5 linked regions of the Homo sapiens genome follow. The protein of the gene in region 1 purifies or fractionates together with the protein of each later gene. This does not show direct contact. Each region holds a gene or a part of one and is shown on either strand. Other genes may lie near its edges. The genes, in order: EFNA5, NBAS, UTP20, MINPP1 and BPNT2.

Region 1 (3,515 bases):
CTTTCTATAGCAGTGAGACCTGAAAAGTACTGTTTGTTTTAATTTGGAGGAGGAATTAGAGAAAGTTCCTGTTGTTCAAGTCAGGAAAGAATTTATTGTTCATCATTTGTATGTGAAAATGAAGAGTAATATGTTGTTGTTCTCTTCTTTCTTTCCTGCTCTCTCTCTGTGTTACCCACAGCCTCTGCAATCCCAGATAATGGAAGAAGGTCCTGTCTAAAGCTCAAAGTCTTTGTGAGACCAACAAGTAAGTTCACTAGAATGAGCTTCAGAGGGTGGCTTCACCGCGCATGCTTTATTGTGTGGTCTGGTTCACGGCGGTAAAACTTTTTTTTACTGTTAAATCTTGTGTGGTATCTGTTTTGTATATCAACATTCATATTTTAGTTTTCATCATATTTTTTCTCATTCTTCATGATGCTTTTACTTAAGTACACAGCAGTTGCTAACTTGTTGTTTCTTAGACTGTTGTACATGCAGAGCAAATGGGAACAATATTGGCATTTGGAACATGCCATTGATTGTAAGACAATCTACATAAAAAAAGAAAAAAAGGAGAGAAAGAAAAAAGAAAGAAATGGGAGTTTAAGGGTGTCTTCACTAACATATTTGGCTGTTATCTCTATTTTTGTTATAGATAGCTGTATGAAAACTATAGGTGTTCATGATCGTGTTTTCGATGTTAACGACAAAGTAGAAAATTCATTAGAACCAGCAGGTTAGTATGCTTAGAGAATCTCTTTTAACAAATGCATCTATTTCTCTGGTGCTTCCGTATTTTTTTCCTTTCTTCTTCTCTGCATGTTTGCATGTTATAGTTGTTGTTCTGCTTTTGCTCATTGCTAGCGATGCTAATATGACTTATATTCTACCTCATTCCTCCAGTATCTTTGTGCAATGCATGTTAGGTAAAATAAAATTTTCTTTTTTGGAATGGGTTTGAGCTAATGCAGTATCCTAATATAGAAGCCCCATCGGAATGCTAAAATCTCACTGCCTTTTACCATATCCTCAGAGCATGCTGGTGAATCACTGTGAATATTAAAGGATCTGTTTTCATGTAAGACACAAAACATTTCTATGTATATGTTCATAAAATTTTATTTTTTATGTCCAAATCTGTAGATAAAAGTAATAAGACTATTGCACAAAATAGAAACTAATTCAACATACTTAGTTTTCTCTAGAAATTTACATGCATCATTGAACTGACCTAAGGAACTTTATTTTATTTAAATATTTTTGCTATTGTCAATAGTAATTGGTCTGGAGAAGTATAATCACATTGCCACCACAAATTCGCACATCTCTTGTGCCACAAATGTACCAGTAGCCTGTTGAGCCAAATGTGATCCTTGATTACCGAGGCAAAATAAGTTTTAAGGATAAATAAAACTTTTCTACGATTGACTTCCACACTCCTAATGTTTCCCATAACTAAAGAAAAATAAAACCTACCAAAGCACTCGTTGAGGCATTAGTCTGTCGCATACTATGGATAATAAGAACCTGTAAATATCCATTCGGTTATCAATTCAGTCTGGCCATTTAATAAAACTAGATTAACTGAGAGGAGTGGTCGCCCTCTACCAACTGCTTATGGAGGGGTGTGCCTGGAGGCCCTGTGTGTTTCCTTCCTCTGTGGTGTCCTCTTCTCCCCGACCTGCTCCAGATCTTCACTGGTTTCCTTACCCATCTCCCTTGATCATCTCAAAGCTTAAGGGAAATAAAATTATTTCCTCTTCATGGAGAGATTTGAGCCCCCTTATGTAAATGGAGAATTTTTTTTTTTTTTTTTTTTTTTGTAGAATTTCTCTTCCTTATGGTCCTAGAAACTAACGGACATTAAGGTCCACTTTTTCCTCCAATATTGTAACCAGGACTGCATAGTCAATGAACCTTAGGGAAACTTACCCTGAGTAAATGCTGTGCCTCAGGACATACAATAGCTTTCCTGTTAAAACTGACAGGAAGAGTTAGAGTTTTTTCCCTGAAGCATTCTTGTTTTCTAAGGCAGGCATCTCACCCAGAGCGCAAATGAGAGGTGTGTACAATGAGCTCTCCGAGGTCTTAGTGGCTCCCCAGGGATCAGTTAGCTGCTTTAGAAAGTTTTAAGGAATGAATGCTGACATGAAGGCATTTTAATTGTGTCCTGGAAATCTGGAGCCATGACTTTGGCTTCTTAAGGTACCAGAGTCCTCACAAGCTCAGGGACTTGGGCCACCAGAGGATCTGCAAGTTACTCAGTATCTCCCTTAACAACCCCAGACTCTACACTCTTCCTTCTATGGCTGAGGAGACTCACCCATGCCACATTGCTGATTAGGTAGATCCAGGTTTAATACTCAGATCTTCTGACTCCTATTCCAACATTAGTATCAAAGTAGTGGTCTCTTACCATTATTAGAGGTATGTTCATAAAGAGGACTTAAGTCTCTTGTCTTTGTTAAGAAGCCACGAGAAGAATGACCAGCATGTTCTAAACAAAAATTACCCAGGATTATGATCTCTTGATACACATTGTGCAGAATGTAGGCATATCTTTCCCATGGTTTTTTTTCCAGGGAATCTCCACTGCCTGTCTATAGCATAGGAGGCTGCTTAGACACCTAACAGATTGCATATTTTTCTCTGGTAATGAAGAGGCACATGGAGGACTATTCTGCCATTAGGAAAATTACCTTTGAATTCCACTAACGATACAATGCAAGATATTGAGATGCTTTCATACATGAACATATACCACTGTCTTTGGGGAAACAAGGTTTTTTTTCACTAAGCATTTAAAATGCACAATGGCCCAAAATTGATGGACATATAACTGCTGGAAGTTTGCAAAAGTTTGGCAGAATGTAGTTCAGTGTGTGCATACGTGTGCTGGGGAGTAGAGCGTAGGTGTACATGCAGGAAAAGCTCCTTGAGTCAGTCAGAGCTATATTTTAAGGGCTTGCTGGTGAGTATCTTCACTAACAAAGTGAGACAAGGTTGAACCACAATTCCTGGCAATAAGAAAACAATAAGAAATGTGTTTCTTACAGGTGTGAGGCACTGTGCCTCACACCTATAATCCCAGCAATTTGAGAGGCTGAGATGGGTGGATTGCTTGAGGCTAAGAGTTTGAGACCAACCTGGACAACACTGTGAAACCTTGTCTTTACCAAAAAAAAAAAAAAAAAAAAAAAAATGTGGTGTGTGTGCCTTTAGTCTCAGTTACTTGGGAGACTGAAGTGGGAGGATTGCTTAAGCCCAGGAGTTCGAGGCTACAGTGAGCTATGATCACGCCACTGTGCTCCATCCTGGGTGACAGAGCAAGATTCTGTCTCTAAGAAGAGAGAGAAAGTCTAGTTGGATTTGCAGTTCTTCACCACTGTGTCGAGCCACTGAGTGAAAGGGTATTTACCTTTCCCCAGCTCTGGGTGTAGACCCAGTCTTTATGAACCCAGCAAGTCTGAAAGGATTCCACTGCATGATCTCAGCGATGTGTACTAATTCACCTGTCTTTGGAATGTATTTGT
Region 2 (3,515 bases), on another chromosome or scaffold:
ATGATCTCAGCTCACTCCAACCTCCGTTTCGTAGGTTCAAGCAATTCTCCTGCCTCAGCCTCCCGAGTAGCTGGGACTACAGGTGCATACCACCACACCCAGGTAATTTTTTTTTTTTTGGTTTTTTTTTTTCTTCTAGTAGAGATGGGATTTCACCATATTGGCCAGGCTGGTCTCAAACTCCTGATCTCAGGTAATCTGCCTGCCTTGGCCTCCCAAAGTGCTGGGATTACAGGCTTGAGCCGCTATGCCCGGCCAATAACTTTTTTAAAGACTCAGGCTAACCCAAGCTAAGTTGTTAGCCTGGTTTCCGAATGCAGGTAATCTGGGCTGGGCACTGGAGCTCCTTTACATTTGTCAACTGGAAAGAACAGAATGGCATATTTACTATAAAGTGACATGAGAACTGTAACATGTACTAAGTATACGTGTAAATGAGAATAGTCATCTCTATTTTAGCATATTTGTACATCTACAATAGAGAAAAAAAATTTCCTAATTAAAACACCTCATTCACAGCAAATGAACAAAAACTTTTTAAAAAGCCAACATGTAATTATTTTCAAGAAAGGAAACAAAAATAAAATCTACAGAATGTAGGAGAAATTTTCATTTCTTCTACTGTGCTCAAACCACTTTAAAATATCTTTTTGTTTACCTTGGTCACAGCTTTTGGAGAAAATGTAACTGCATCTACCACAGTGATGAGGTCACCTGGGTGGAGACGATCAAAGTACTTCATGCAGACATCATAGGCATGAAGCCACTCCGGTGAAGAGCCTGGGACTTGTTTAATGAGATGAGGGTCTCCAGTCCAGAACAACTTCTGTAACCAGATGGTGTACAGAGAGCTTGGGGAAAGCATCTGTCCATCCTTTTCAGGGATTTTGGGAACAAGTTTGGAAATAGACAAGATATTTTGACTTGAAAGAACTGGCTCCAATGCTTCAAGAGGACTCATGTTTTCATCTGTCAGCTTTTTGTAATTAAGACCTAGCAGAAAAAAAAAGAAAGTAGGTAAGTGGTTCATTCCAATGTAAACATAGAGTCACTTTCAAACACACACACATAGCCCTCTATATGTCTGAACGCAAAGATCTATCAACTTAGCTCTAAGTAGCTAGTTTATATTTTCTATTAGAAAGATCAGGAGATCTGAGTTCCAGTCACAGCCTGAAACTTATTCGGCTTTGTGATCCCAGATAGGCCATTCATCTTCTGTGTGCCTCCATCTCCTTGTTTGTACCCTAGAGATGACAATATCTCCATGCCTTTCGAATCCGCCGCAGCACCTATGTTTTCTTCTATCAGTGCTTCAACAAACTGCATTACATTTCTTTGTTATTTATCTGGCATTTCACTAGTTACTTGAAGGCAAGGATTGAATCTTATTCCCTTATCCTCTGTGTCTAGGCCAGTGTCTCATTTGATTATTCAGAAAACAACTGATAAACTGATGGGAACTCTCACAATTATTATGAATATCAAACAAACAGATTTGAATGTGCCTTGCAAATTATGAAGTATAAAAATTAAGAGGTCTTAAAGTGTTTAATTTCTTAGTTATGAGCATAAAGACCATTCTAAAGATTTCCATAATTTATCAAATATTCAAAGGCTCTTAAGTGTTCCATGCATATTTTAAACATATAGGCTCCAGTGGAATGAAATTCTGCTCAACTGCCTATTATAAAGTGTCTTGGCCTTGCCATTTATATACATAAAATATAATCAATGGGAGTAGTGAAAAAATCCTGGAGCAGAAGTCCAAAACTTTGGATTTTAGTACCAAGTCTACCATAAGTCACTGTGCGACTTTCAATAGGTTTCTTACTTTTTCTGGTATTTAATTCCCTCAACTATAAGTGAAAGAGTTGGAAAGATAATAACTAAAGTCGATTAGCTTCAAAATTCTGTGGTTTCAGAGCTCTGCAACCATAATGCATGAACAGGATTGTGTACAGAAAATTAATCCCCAGATTTAATTGAAAAGAATGAATTCAAGCAGGGAAACAACCATCCTACCTGATGCAACAACCTTAAACTTCTTCAGCAGTCGAATGTGGGTTTCTGGTTTAATGGCACAGTTCCCCAAATCTGCACAGCCACAGTTTTCCAGAAGAGTGAAATAATACTGCAGCCTTTCGTGATCAAAGCCACCAATAGTAGGGTAAATATACTTGACCATGTGCTGGTGAAAGGCTTCTGGATCAGTCTTCAAAGTCTCAAAGAGATGAAGGTCTTGGGCTCTATTTTCAATTTCTAGTGTGGACAAACTGAAATTAAGAGCCAAAGGAACTGTGTTAAGATTTTGTTCCTTTATTAAAGTGATTTTTTTTTTAACCAAGGAAGAAACACTACTTCTTATAGCTCCCTTCTTCCTGCCTACTCAAAGACAGTAAACCACCACCAGAAGCCAGTCAGCCTGAATAAAGGAAAACAAATGTGTTAGATGCCTACTAACATTTAACTGACTACACACTCGTCATGTTATCTCACGGGGGTCTACAGCAACCCTGTGAAGTAGCTTTAACTTCAAGTTCCTGCAGTTGGGAGAGCTGTCTGATGTCTCCCAGCTAGAAAATAAACCAACATCTGTCAGCGTCCACTCTTAATCATTTATTCATTCATAAAAAGGGTTTAAAAATCTATACTTCTTCACAGAAACATAAACAGCCTTATTATTTCAGGAATTTAGGAAATGATACAGAAAAAACCCTAAACTTTCAGGCTTAAGATTTACATGCAAGAGTCTTGAATTAATATTCAATAAACCCAAATTTTATGCTGTGTCCAGATAAAAGAAAAATAGAAAAAGAGGGATAATTAAACTTTCACTTGGGTTATCTGCAGTAATGCTACTTAAATAAAACACATATCTTAATATTTTCATCCTAACTTAGATGTCTTTGTAATCTAATTTTAAAAAGTCACTTAAACTCTTGGGAAAAGAAAAAGTAAGGTATTTTTGCTTGGTTGATTGGTTTGTGCTTTTAGAAGGGGAAAGGAGGGGGTTAATTTTGGTCTTGTGCTTCTCCCTGGACAGAATCTGGACAGAGCCTGTGGTCTAGTGTAATCTCAATGCCCCTTACGTGATGAGTTTCATACTCCCTAATTGTAAGAGTCCTTCAGGCAGCCCTGCATTCACAGAAGTACCCAGGTTCTAGGGTTCTCGGAAGCAGCAACAGAAGCATCTGGGGGCAGTAAGTGAGACCTTGGGCAGCAACAAAGTTAGGCTTCAAAAAGTTCTAAAGCAGCTCCTCTGAAACATGACAACTTGTTTACTGAAAGTGCCCAAAGACATGTTTTTGGTTTATGTAGATAAAGTTAGTATAAATCATGTTTTAAAACTTTCAGGGGAATGTGACAACACTTGGGTTAAAAAGGGTAATCTACAAAGTCAAAGCATCAAGTAATTTTTAAAAACTGGTCTTTTTACTTTTGCTTCAAGAAAAACCTTATTTTTCCATTAAGACACAGTGCAAACATTTACAAGAATATCTCTATCTATAAAT
Region 3 (3,515 bases), on another chromosome or scaffold:
GAAAATGTTCTTATCTAATCCTGAATTTATTTTATTTTTTTCTCTTCCTTCTCATCAAACACTTGGCCCTCCTCCTAACTAGTAACCCTACAGTATACATCATGGAAACATATCTCTGTATCTGTCCTCTCAATATTCTTCCTTTTAGCCTTTAATACTATATATTCTCATTTGCCTAAAAAGAACACTTTTGTACCTGTCCAAGATCTGTTTCTTTCTGCCCCAGGAAGACTCTTCATCTTGCTCTGTTTAACAACTGCATTTTTCCTTTCTCCCGTGTTCCCTTTGGTCTTTTTATTTTTTTTTAATCTTATTTTTATCCAAATACTGCTTACACGTCTGTAGTTTAGGAAGACAAACCAGGTTAAATGGCAGTCATTTGTTTTCTGCTCCCATCTTATTAGCAGCCATCGGGTCTAATGATTTTTAGCTATTTTTTTTCTTTTCTTTCTTCTTTTTTTTTAGAGACGGAGTCTCACTCTGTCGCCCAGGCTGGAGTGCAGTGGCATGATCTCGGCTCACTGCAACCTCTGCCTCCCAGGTTCATGCCATTCTCCTGCCTCAGCCTCCCAAGTAGCTGGGACTACAGGCACCCACCACCACGCCTGGCTGATTTTTTGTATTTTTAGTGGAGATGGGGTTTCACCATGTTAGCCAGGATGGTCTTGATCTCCTGACCTTGTGATCTGCCTGCCTCGGCCAGCTATTTTTTTCTTATATTTACTTTATACTTTTAAATCATCTGAATATACTGCTTTACCTTGGTTTGCTAGTTTTGGTTCTCATGTGTAGACTTCCTCCTATGGCAGATGGACTTTAGTTCCTTTATACCTCTCATGCTCCCAATAGAATTATATTAGAAATTTTGGTTGAATCCATATTCACCACATACTTATATAAACAAGGAGTATTTTATGATTATATGACCTTTTTGTATACATTCTCGTTTTTCTTTTTTTTTTTTTTTTGTCGAGACATAGTCTCACTCTGTCACCCAGGCTGGAGTGTAGTGGTGCCATCTCTGCTTACTGCAACCTCCACCCTCCGGGTTCAAGTGATTCTCCTGCTTCAGGCTCCTGAGTAGCTGGGATTACAGTCATGTGCCCCCACGCCTGGCTAATTTTTGTATTTTTAGTAGAGACGGGGTTTTACCATGTTGGCCAGGCTGGTCTCTTAACTCCTGACCTCAGATGATCTGCCTGCCTCGGCCTCCCAAAGTGTTGGGATTACAGGCATGAGCCACCACACCTGGCCTCATTTTTCTTAGAGTTTATAATTGCCTCGTTCTTTAAAAACTGGAAATTGTTTTCTTTGAATGGCTGGCCAAAGAGTCTGTCTTCCAGCAGCTTTATAAATGTCCTTCACATGACAAAACTGTCAGATAATTTAGCAGCTCAATTTTTCTTTTTCTTCTTTCTTGGAGACATTTCTCCTGGAGCAAGTCCAGTCTAAATGCATTGCTTTCTCTGCCCAGTGCACAAATGTTGTACTGGGACTTCCTTTTGCTTCTCTCTTGTTTCCTGGGTTCCGTGTTCTCTTCTTCTTATAGTTTAGTCTCTAATTTTGGTGGAATTTATTTTTCATAATTTCCTGGGGGTAGGGAGGGTTCATGGAGATAAAATATTGAGATTTAATACATCTGAAAATGTCTTTATTCTCTCCTGACACTGCATTATTAGTAGACAGGGTATAGAATTCTAGATTCTAAGTCATCCTTCCTCAGAGTTTTAAGACATGGCTGCACAGTCTTTAGTTTCCATTGTTCCTATGTAGAGGTCTAATGCCATTGTGATTCTTGATCCTTTGTTTTTGGTCTAGTTTTTTGAATTGTTAGCATCTTCTCTTTATTATATCTGTTAATAAGTGTGATTTTTTTTTTCTTAACTTTAGCTTTTTCTACCAAGCTTTCTGTCATATATTGTGAATTGCTTCTTAATTGATGATGCTGTAGTCAAAGATGAAGCTCTGGCCATTCTGGCCAAGCTCATTCTGAACAAAGCAGCACCTCCCACTGCTGGCTCGATGGCAATTGAAAAGTACCCTCTGGTTTTCTCACCGCAGATGGTGGGGTGAGTTCTAACTTTTTATTCCTGTAATGATGATAAGTTTACCCATTTAAATGTAATGTATCAAGAATACTGTAAAAAAATGATCTATATGTAACAGGAAAGATGTCCATGATAAGTTGTGTGAAAAAAGCAAGTTGTAGAGCTACACACATAGTACGTATAGTATGATCTCATTTTGCAAGGTAAAGCAAAAAGTGTGTATGAACATAGAAAAACATGTGGAAGGATACAGAAACTTGTTAACTTTGTTTAATCAGAAGGATGGTAAGGGAAAGACAGAGGTGACTTAATTTTTTAACCATTTATTTTAAAGTTATTGTAGATTCACGTGCAGTTGCAAGAAATAGTACAGAGAGGTTTCGTATACTCTTCACTCAGATTACTCCATTGGTACATCTTGCATGAGCATACTGCGATATCACAACTGTAGAATTGACATTGGTGCAATCCATCAATCTTATCAGATATCATCAGTTGTATGTGCACTCATCTGAGTGTGTATACTTATATAGATATATAGTCATATGTAGTTTTATCCTGTGTTGATTTGTAACCACCACCAGAGTGAATATCTGGAACTGTTCCCTCACCACGAGGATTCCTCATGCTACCTTTTAATAACCACACTCCTGGCCAGGCGCGGTGGCTCACGCCTGTAATCCCAGCACTTTGGGAGGCCGAGGAGGGCAGATCACGAGGTCAGGAGATCGAGACCATCCTGGCTAACACGGTGAAACCCTGTCTCTATTAAAAATACAAAAAATTAGCCAGGCGTGGTGGCGGACGCCTGTAGTCCTAGTTACTCGGGAGGCTGAGGCAGGAGAATGGCGTGAACCCGGGAGGTGGAGCTTGCAGTGAGCCGAGATCACGCCACTGCCCTCCAGCCTGCACGACAGAGCGAGACTTCATCTCAAAAAAAAAAAAAGAAAAATACAAAAAATTAGGTGGGTGTGGTAGCGGGCGCCTGTAGTCCTAGGTACTGAGGAGGCTGAGGCAGGAGAATGGCGTGAACCCAGGAGGTAGAGGTTGCAGTGAGCCGAAATCATGCCACTGCACTCCAGCCTGGGCGACAGAGCAAGACTCTATCTCAAAAAATAAAATAAAATAAAATAAAAATAAAAATTATATACCTTTGTATTGTTTCAGTTGTTAAGTGTCATGGATTACTTTCTTAATTTCATTCAAAATGACACATTGTTTAGAAGTTAAAAACAAAGCTTATTTACATACATGAGAAGATTTATTGTATCATTTCTCAAATAGTTAAGTGGGTATGCTTCTAGAAACTGTAGCTTAGGAAACCAGTTCCCTTGTCATTCCTTTGTTTTTATACTTAATCTTCTTATTTCTCTTGGAGTAGTTAGACCCGTTGTTGTGTTTTTGGTTTGCTTTGAGGCGGAATTGATGGGCATTCCTTGAGTTTGTGCTGAATACTCGACTTTGAAA
Region 4 (4,226 bases), on another chromosome or scaffold:
TAAATGCTAATTTGAGCAAAGTTCTACAAAAATATCACTGACCATGAATATTCAGGCATTGACATGCTACAAAATAGCATATCGAAAAGAACATCTGTTGCCCTAAAGATGGTTTCCTGCACAGAACGTCTCCAAATTTTCAGCATTCATAGGCTGGCCCCGTTTCTTCTTGGTTAACATTTAGAGGCACGCCTAAACTTAGAGGAACACCTCTCTAAACCAAGGAGACACTTAAAGAGAAAAGGAGTAAAGATGGTGATGGGCTTATAAAGAGCAATGTAATAGTGTCTTTGAAGCAAAAGCTAACTTAATGAAAACGTGGTCCCAATTTCCTTAAATCTGGATCACCGTACGACTTCTGTAATACTTATTATTTCCCCAGCTGGCAAATAAACTGGAGTTCAAGTGGGAAAAAACAAGGTATTGTTCAGACTTATGATTTTTGGGGTCAAAGATTCTGAGCAATAACCTATTAAAAAACCCAGCTTTTGATTTGAGTATGTAAGTAAGTACATGGGAGGAACGTATGGATCTGGAGTGGTGGTAAATACAGAGCATGTTTGCTTCGCAAAGCAGATTAGCTCATACTTAATAATAGAGTAAATCTGTTGGGCCATGACTCAATGCACCCAAATTCTCTAGATTGCTATGTCTCTACTCGCTAAGCCTTCGGGAACAACAAGCACAGAACTTTTAGGGTGCTGTCTCACTGATGTCGGCGTTAGCTCTGGTAGTCCAGGTCAAGATTATACCAAAGATTCAGGACTTAAATTCCTGCAGAATGTAAGCCCCTTTCCAAGTTCTCTGCTTTACTGTATCCTGTTTATTTTCAAACTCAAATGGAAAAAAACGAAACAAAAACCTTGGGCTTCAAGAGGCATCCTGCCGCAAGGCCCAGCGATGTGAATTTTCAACAACCGTCTCAGGCAGATTTCATGCTGATGGTTCAGGCACTAAACTTTGAAAAACACAGTATCACAGAGTAGGGATGGTGATGTAAGAGTCATCTGTAAAAGCTGTGCTGTTTTGGCAGCCTGGGAGGCTAAGGTTTAGTCTAGGCGACTAAGGTTTAGTCCGGGCTGTATTCACACCCAAAACAACTAAAAAAGCGGAGGAGTCTTTGAGTCAATCCCTGAAGCTCCGGCTAAGAGGAAACTCGCCCACGCTCCAGGGCAGCGACGCCGGCTCCACCTCAGCCACGGCTGTCTCAAGCTTCTCGGGGTTTTCCGCCGGCTCCACCCGAGCCACAAGTCTACAGGACTCCTCGGAGCTTTCCGCCGGGACGCAAGACCCACCGCCAGAGGTTGGTACCTCCTAGAGAACAGCGAAGCGCATCCCGAGGGCCGCCGGCCGGAAGCGCCCTCCAGACCCGCCCCCTGCCCTCCGGAGCCGGAAGCTGGGCATCTGCAGCTGGCTCGGCGCACTCCACTGACCGTCCCGACGATGCTACGCGCGCCCGGCTGCCTCCTCCGGACCTCCGTAGCGCCTGCCGCGGCCCTGGCTGCGGCGCTGCTCTCGTCGCTTGCGCGCTGCTCTCTTCTAGAGCCGAGGGACCCGGTGGCCTCGTCGCTCAGCCCCTATTTCGGCACCAAGACTCGCTACGAGGATGTCAACCCCGTGCTATTGTCGGGCCCCGAGGCTCCGTGGCGGGACCCTGAGCTGCTGGAGGGGACCTGCACCCCGGTGCAGCTGGTCGCCCTCATTCGCCACGGCACCCGCTACCCCACGGTCAAACAGATCCGCAAGCTGAGGCAGCTGCACGGGTTGCTGCAGGCCCGCGGGTCCAGGGATGGCGGGGCTAGTAGTACCGGCAGCCGCGACCTGGGTGCAGCGCTGGCCGACTGGCCTTTGTGGTACGCGGACTGGATGGACGGGCAGCTAGTAGAGAAGGGACGGCAGGATATGCGACAGCTGGCGCTGCGTCTGGCCTCGCTCTTCCCGGCCCTTTTCAGCCGTGAGAACTACGGCCGCCTGCGGCTCATCACCAGTTCCAAGCACCGCTGCATGGATAGCAGCGCCGCCTTCCTGCAGGGGCTGTGGCAGCACTACCACCCTGGCTTGCCGCCGCCGGACGTCGCAGGTGACCCCCCGGGCGGCCCGTGTGCTGTCCCGGTCCTCCCACCCGCCCTGGATGCTCTCCCGCCTCCCCCAGACCCTGGGCTTTTCCGATGCCCCCCAGTTCTCTTTCCTCTTTTCCCAAGCCATCATCCCTCGGGCTACGTCCTCCCTGTCGAGGGATATTACAGACTTGGCTATCTCTTTTTCCCCTTACACGTATGTTCATTTATTAATTCATCAGGTGTAAATTCAGCACCTTGTACTCGCTGCCTGCTTTAGTAGAGTTGGGGATCCAACAGGAAAGGGGACAGACGAGGTCTCCCGCAATTTTTGCGCTCCCGTTCCCAAACTGAATTGCCCCTTCGAGCGCCAACCCATCCCTTCCCCCTTCCCTGGCGTCTAGTTTCACAATTGGGCGCACGTTTTAAAAAACAGAATCTAGAATTTTCTTCCTCGGGCTTTGCTTCCGATACTAGTTTTTCCTTCTTTCTTTTTTTTTTTTTTTAAACTCATCATCTTTTTCAGATGACAGTTTTAGACCTACACCCTGTTTTAGGAACCTGATCTCAAGCCTTTGTGTCCTCCTTTTTTCTTCTGTTTTGTTCATGTTTTTACTGTAGCGTTCCCATCGTTGTAGCTGTGGTCCGTGGTCACAAGCAGTAACAACTCATTTATTCCATTAATTACACTTTTTCGAAATTTGAGAAATCATCTAGTAAGGCCCCGTTATTTCACAGGTGAAGAACCCGAGCCCAAGAGTATGCCTTCTTAATTGTCTTTCTCTAAGGTCTAGTATCCAAGTCTTCTGTTTTCCTAGAATGGTTCTTTTTCTCTTAGAAAATGTTGTAATAGTTACAAATAATAATGATAGCATACACCTCATGCCTATTGTATGCCAGGTATGCCTCACATTTATTTTACAAAATCCTTACAACCACAATCTGGAGTTGATAGTATTTTCCCCTTATCTCAAAGATGAGGAAATTGATACACGAACACATTAAATAATTTGCCCATTTTCATACAGCTAGCTGTGGACCCAGGAAATCTGATTCAGAGCTTGCTTTCTTAGCCATTATGCTATACTGCCTCCATTTGTCCAATAACATACCTAATAAGAATAAAAACATGTAACATTTTTGTACCACAGAGATGAGCAAGCATTAATAGTTTCTTGATCACTTTTAAGGCCAGAATTGAAGTGAGGATTATTGTTTAGCTTCAAAGCCCAAGTGAAAAATTAGAAGTAGGCTGGTTTGTAATTTCTTCTGTAGCTGTTGAACAGTGAAACCATCTGTAAGGGATTTCTCCACTGATTCTGTGTCATGTTATTGTGGGTAATTCAGTTAGCTGACTTGTGTCTAATTACTTGTTGAACTGTGTTTTTTTTTAAATATATACTTTTTCCATTAGCATGAGTGAAAATTCCTCATAAATCTGTTAAATTAACAGAATGGTGAAAGCAGAACATATTTTAATATAACACAATATCTATAGCGACTTCCTGGAACAAGTGAATTTTTGTTCTCAGATGGCATTGCGAAGACTGGCATTTGACTCTCAGTACAGAGCCAGGGATGAAAATACTACAGTTCAGAATAAGCCCACTCCTGACCGTTTTCAGTGTCAGATAGCAAACCCTTTGCCTAGCCACTTTATTATTCTCTATAGACAATAGTTTTGCCTATTATGTACATCTGGTCTTTTGAGGGAGTCTGCTGAATTAGATTTGTAGTTTTGTAGAAACAGAACAATGCCTTTGTTTTTGTTTAAAGACTAGCAATAATTAGATAGTAACAAGGATAAAATACCCAGATGCACTTGGGAAATTATATTTTAGTGTACACAGAAAAAAGGTGACAAAGTTCGCTTATTTTCCTAGTCAAGATATTTTCTTAAGAATTGCAATCCAGTTGACAAAGTGGGCAGAATTATCCATTTCAAGAGAAACAAACATACATACTGATTTTTTTTGCATACACATCCAAAGCCCAGATAAAACTATATTCAATTTTCTCATATTTTATGTACAAAAATGATATACTTGGTGTTCTTTTCGTGGTAAATTGTTGGAGAAATGATTGAAAAATGTGTGTTTTGAATATGACTGAAAAAAACGTAAAGGGCACACCAGTAGTTGAAGCATGATTATGAATGCTTCTCCAATA
Region 5 (4,308 bases), on another chromosome or scaffold:
TTCCCAATGATGCTTTTAATATTGACATGATTACTATCCAACTCATCTTTTTGCTGCTGTCATAGTGTAGGTTGGGGTGGTTCTGTTTAACTTAAACCTTTATATTTCAACCCTGATGTTTATCTTTATCCCTGGGATGGGTTTTGAGAATTACTCTGTGACATTCACTTTTAGATATTTGAAAGCAGCTTTGCTTCATTGCAAAGTTACTCTCAAAAGCTGACAAGAAAGGCAATGCTAGTTCTTTAAGTTCTGGTGCTGTCAATACTCTAGGGATTGTTCTTTCACTGATTTGTATTTGTACTTGATTTTGTGCTGTGATTCTGGCAGGGAAATCACAGTGCTTTTGTTGTATGTGTATAATCTGGCAGTGCTTTTGTTGTATGTGTATAATCACATGCAAATTCTAGGGATGCCCTGAACTCTAAGTAAGCGGTAAAGGTCAGGCTCTACATGACTTGCTTAGCAATGGATGTTTAGAAGTTTGGTATACTTGCAGTTTTTCAGGTGGTTAATTCTAAAGTCCACTTAAAACCAATGCTGTTTTGCTATGAACAGTAAAACAGGCTACATTTTAAGTTGATTTATATAGATATTTTAACATTTAAGAACAATACTATACATCTTAATATTCACTTTTAAGATTAAAGATAAACTCATGAATACTTATAAAGTATTCACTATCATTCTAGCTAAGATCGGTGTTATAGTAGAAGGTAGTTATTTCTGTCAAAATACTTCGAGAGCCTACGCTGACTCAAAGATTACATGTTCTAGACTGACCATCTCCGGATAACCTCTATTTTAAGTGGACTCTGTCAAGCAATTCCTCTTCTTAAGCTCTGGTAGGAGAGCCAGGCTCGAGTACCCTTGGAAATGAGAGAAGCCTGGTTTGCTTTCTTTCATTATGAAAAACCCGGATCAAGGCATGTTTTTCAGCTGCTTCGAGGATGGTTTATTCTGGCAGGTGGAGGAGAGAAACTCTATACACACATAAGCATTTAGGGCACGACAAAGATGTCAACAGAATGAAGAGCCAAGTACAATTCTTCCCCTCACCGCCCAGTTCCCCGTCCTGCCGGGAAGAGCGCGGAGAAGCGACTTAAAGGTACAGGCTGTCTACACCCCCGCTGGCTAAAAAAGCTTGCAAATCAATCTTTTAAAATGGTTTATTGTGTTTTCCTCCATTCCTCAATAATCTGAGAGTGATGAGAAGACTAGACTGTTACTGTGGGTTTATTACAGCCAGCCATAGTCGTACAATGGGATATTTAATTTAAACACCCACAAGGCACTCAGCACAGCACACTGTCCTGTGCGGATTGCTGCTCGCCACTTCCAGGAATACCTTCCCACCCAGACCAAGGAAGGCAGCTCAGTCCAGCGCCTCCTGTCCCGCCCCGCCCCGCCCCAAGGGGAGGTGCCCAGCTCTCCCCGCCCCTCGCCCTCGCCCTCGCCCCGCCCCGTCGCGTAACCCGGATACACACCCACGCTCCCCTTTCACCTCGCGGCCGTAGGCTAACGTGGAAGTCGGACCAGCCGGCCGGCGGAAGAACCTAGAGCGCGCTGCCTGGCGAGTCAGGCGCGCGGGGCGGCGTTGGTGGTCTTCGCGGCGCAACTCGGCCTTTCCTGGGAGGGAGTGATGGGGCGCACCGGGGCCGGGGAGCGGGCGCCAGTGTAGCCCGCGCGGCGCCTGGCCCGGAGCGCGGCGGCTGCGGCGGCGGCGGCGGCGGGCGCTGGAGGCCTGTGAGAGCCGCAGCCCGGAGCGCCCGGCTTCCCACGCCATGGCCCCCATGGGCATCCGCCTTTCCCCACTGGGGGTGGCAGTGTTTTGCCTGCTGGGGCTCGGCGTGCTCTACCACCTCTACTCGGGCTTCTTGGCCGGCCGCTTCAGCCTCTTCGGCCTGGGCGGCGAGCCTGGCGGCGGCGCGGCGGGGCCCGCGGCCGCGGCCGATGGGGGCACCGTGGACTTGCGCGAGATGCTGGCTGTGTCAGTGCTGGCCGCAGTCCGCGGCGGCGACGAGGTGAGGCGCGTCCGCGAGAGCAACGTCCTCCACGAGAAGTCCAAGGGGAAGACGCGCGAGGGAGCCGAGGACAAGATGACCAGCGGCGACGTGCTGTCCAACCGCAAGATGTTCTACCTGCTCAAGACCGCCTTCCCCAGCGTCCAGGTGGGAGCCCACGGGCGGAGCGCCCACTCGAGCCGGGTAGCGCGTCTCGGCCCGTCGACTCTTAACAGTATGGGATGTGGAGCTTCTGGTTCCATTTTGTAGATGTGGAAATTGAGACGCAGAAGTTAACGTGCACAAGGTCAGACAGACAGCAGAGGAGCTGGGTGAGGTTGCACGTAGTCTGACTCAGGGCCCGTGCCCTTTTGGCTCGTCCTGGGTCGGGTGTGCGCCGTGTGTACCTGGGATCAGAAGGCCTTGAAACGAAAAGGCTGACAAAGTTAATTGCACCCGCAGCTTCAGGCTCCTCTGTAGAATTAAGGGGTTGGCTAAAATCCACCAAGACTCTCTATCCTTCCTTGATTTCATCCCTAGAAGGGTCGAAACTGGAGTACACATTTTCTGGGTGGCCTGCCAGTAGCCAGCTGAAAGACCGAGTCTTGTTGCAGAGCTGTTAGTGTGCGGGGCATTTGTGTGTGCGTGTGTGCGCTCGCGGGAGTCGGGGTGGGGGGGTGGGGGATGAGTATGCTCATTTCGCTGTCTTTTTGTCAGGACGCTCTAAAGTTTATAGTTTGCGGGCCCTTTAAGGAGGTACTTAGAAATATACCAGCTGTTGGTCCTACCTGGCCCTTGATTAAAGATCCATATTTACTCCAGAGAATAAGAATTAAATAACATTTGGCTTTTCTTTGGGTAGGTTTCTGGGAAGGGAGTTGACATTTTCTTAAGGAAATCCAGACATTTTGGATTTGTTATTAATACTTTTTGAATTCATCATTTCACTGGAGCTGCTATTGAGTTGAATAAAGCATATTTAAAATTTGCAGTTCCAGAAACTGCAAATTTTGTTGAGGAAGAGCTCAGCATAGCGTAGCAGCACCTTATTAACGTATATCTTAACTCACCTAACTGTAGTTTTGGCTACTGGGAAGAAAAATTGTCTTCACTGGAATTTTATTAGATAAACAGTGATGTGCAAACCCAGGCTTCTTTGGAAGGTGACTGACCTTTTACTGCTGATCTTGAAAGAGTTAGGAGAATATTGTCATTGTTTAGTTATGTATTTTGCATAAGGCTTCTTCCAGTCTATCATAATATTGCTTTGGTTTTGTTTTTTATTCTCCTCTCTTCCTCCCTTTTCTTTCGTCTTTTTCTTTTTCCAGTGGAAAGGAACATTGTATTTCCTAACATGAGCTACTGGATACCAGATGTAATTAACGTTAGAATTTTTTTTTTCAAATTTCTACTTAAAACACAGAATATTTCCACTTTTTCTTCTTCCCTACTCTGTTTTTATCATCACAAATAATACTTAAATTTTTTTGCATCTAGATGTAAGGTGTGTTTATGAAATATTTTACCCCCTTTCCAAAACATACGTGTTTCCTTCCCCAAGAATTTATAGAGGAAACAGGAGATTCAGAGAAGTTGCTATTTAATGGTTATAACAGTACTAATAATAACCATTTATTGAATATATTTTACATGCCCAAATACTGGCTACACAGGACTTCATTTGATCCTTAACAGCAACTTTAAGAAGTAAATTTTATTTCTGCCTACTATACAAACGGGAAATCTGAGGCTCGTGACACTCCAGCTTATATGAACTATCCCACATTTTAGCTAGATTTTTAGAAGGCTATTTAAAACTTATAATTGTAGAAGCTTAAAAGCAGTAATAGTGAAATACAGCAAGCAGAGTTGATTTTTCTTTTTTTAAGTAAAAACAAAAGTATCTTAAATGTTGAAAACACATCTGTATGTGTGTGCATTCTCATTTATTAGCAAACAATAAGGGAATGGCTGCCAAGGGCAGTGAGCTGCATTTTATTAACATAAAAGCTAAGCTTTTGGAATTGCAGATGTTGAAGTCTCTGGCTTAATATAAAACAACTTCTTGTTTTCTTGTGACTATTTGAATGTTTGCATGTGCTTCTGTAGTATTCATGTTGGGTCATGACTGAAGGAATAGAAGAGGTTTGTGATCATTTATACAGTGTCAAAGTAGGGATGGTGTCATGTTGAGCGATCTCCTTATACCCCTGTGTTATAGGCTAGAGGCCAAATATTGTAGCCAACTAAGTGGAGAATCAACCTAAAAGGAGTCTTTCTCCTTTTTTGCCTTCCCCTCTCCTAA

The links.
Region 2: the proteins of EFNA5 (region 1) and NBAS purify together in Homo sapiens (affinity purification with mass spectrometry; one large-scale study listed by BioGRID and IntAct). This does not show direct contact.
Region 3: the proteins of EFNA5 (region 1) and UTP20 purify together in Homo sapiens (affinity purification with mass spectrometry; one large-scale study listed by BioGRID and IntAct). This does not show direct contact.
Region 4: the proteins of EFNA5 (region 1) and MINPP1 purify together in Homo sapiens (affinity purification with mass spectrometry; one large-scale study listed by BioGRID and IntAct). This does not show direct contact.
Region 5: the proteins of EFNA5 (region 1) and BPNT2 purify together in Homo sapiens (affinity purification with mass spectrometry; one large-scale study listed by BioGRID and IntAct). This does not show direct contact.

What each region holds. Positions count from the first base shown.
Region 1 is NC_000005.10:107,384,438-107,387,952, reverse strand, and holds part of EFNA5 (ephrin-A5 isoform 1 precursor), read left to right. Parts: intron 1-181; coding exon 182-247; intron 248-637; coding exon 638-718; intron 719-3,515. UniProt on the Homo sapiens protein: Cell surface GPI-bound ligand for Eph receptors, a family of receptor tyrosine kinases which are crucial for migration, repulsion and adhesion during neuronal, vascular and epithelial development.
Region 2 is NC_000002.12:15,274,826-15,278,340, forward strand, and holds part of NBAS (NBAS subunit of NRZ tethering complex), read right to left. Parts: intron 2,277-3,515; coding exon 2,026-2,276; intron 994-2,025; coding exon 659-993; intron 1-658. UniProt on the Homo sapiens protein: Involved in Golgi-to-endoplasmic reticulum (ER) retrograde transport; the function is proposed to depend on its association in the NRZ complex which is believed to play a role in SNARE assembly at the ER. Required for normal embryonic development.
Region 3 is NC_000012.12:101,293,590-101,297,104, forward strand, and holds part of UTP20 (small subunit processome component 20 homolog), read left to right. Parts: intron 1-1,890; coding exon 1,891-2,069; intron 2,070-3,515. UniProt on the Homo sapiens protein: Part of the small subunit (SSU) processome, first precursor of the small eukaryotic ribosomal subunit.
Region 4 is NC_000010.11:87,503,473-87,507,698, forward strand, and holds the start of MINPP1 (multiple inositol polyphosphate phosphatase 1 isoform 1 precursor), read left to right. Parts: upstream 1-1,420; 5' UTR 1,421-1,443; coding exon 1,444-2,080; intron 2,081-4,226. UniProt on the Homo sapiens protein: Multiple inositol polyphosphate phosphatase that hydrolyzes 1D-myo-inositol 1,3,4,5,6-pentakisphosphate (InsP5[2OH]) and 1D-myo-inositol hexakisphosphate (InsP6) to a range of less phosphorylated inositol phosphates.
Region 5 is NC_000008.11:56,991,062-56,995,369, reverse strand, and holds the start of BPNT2 (Golgi-resident adenosine 3',5'-bisphosphate 3'-phosphatase), read left to right. Parts: upstream 1-1,502; 5' UTR 1,503-1,784; coding exon 1,785-2,171; intron 2,172-4,308. UniProt on the Homo sapiens protein: Exhibits 3'-nucleotidase activity toward adenosine 3',5'-bisphosphate (PAP), namely hydrolyzes adenosine 3',5'-bisphosphate into adenosine 5'-monophosphate (AMP) and a phosphate.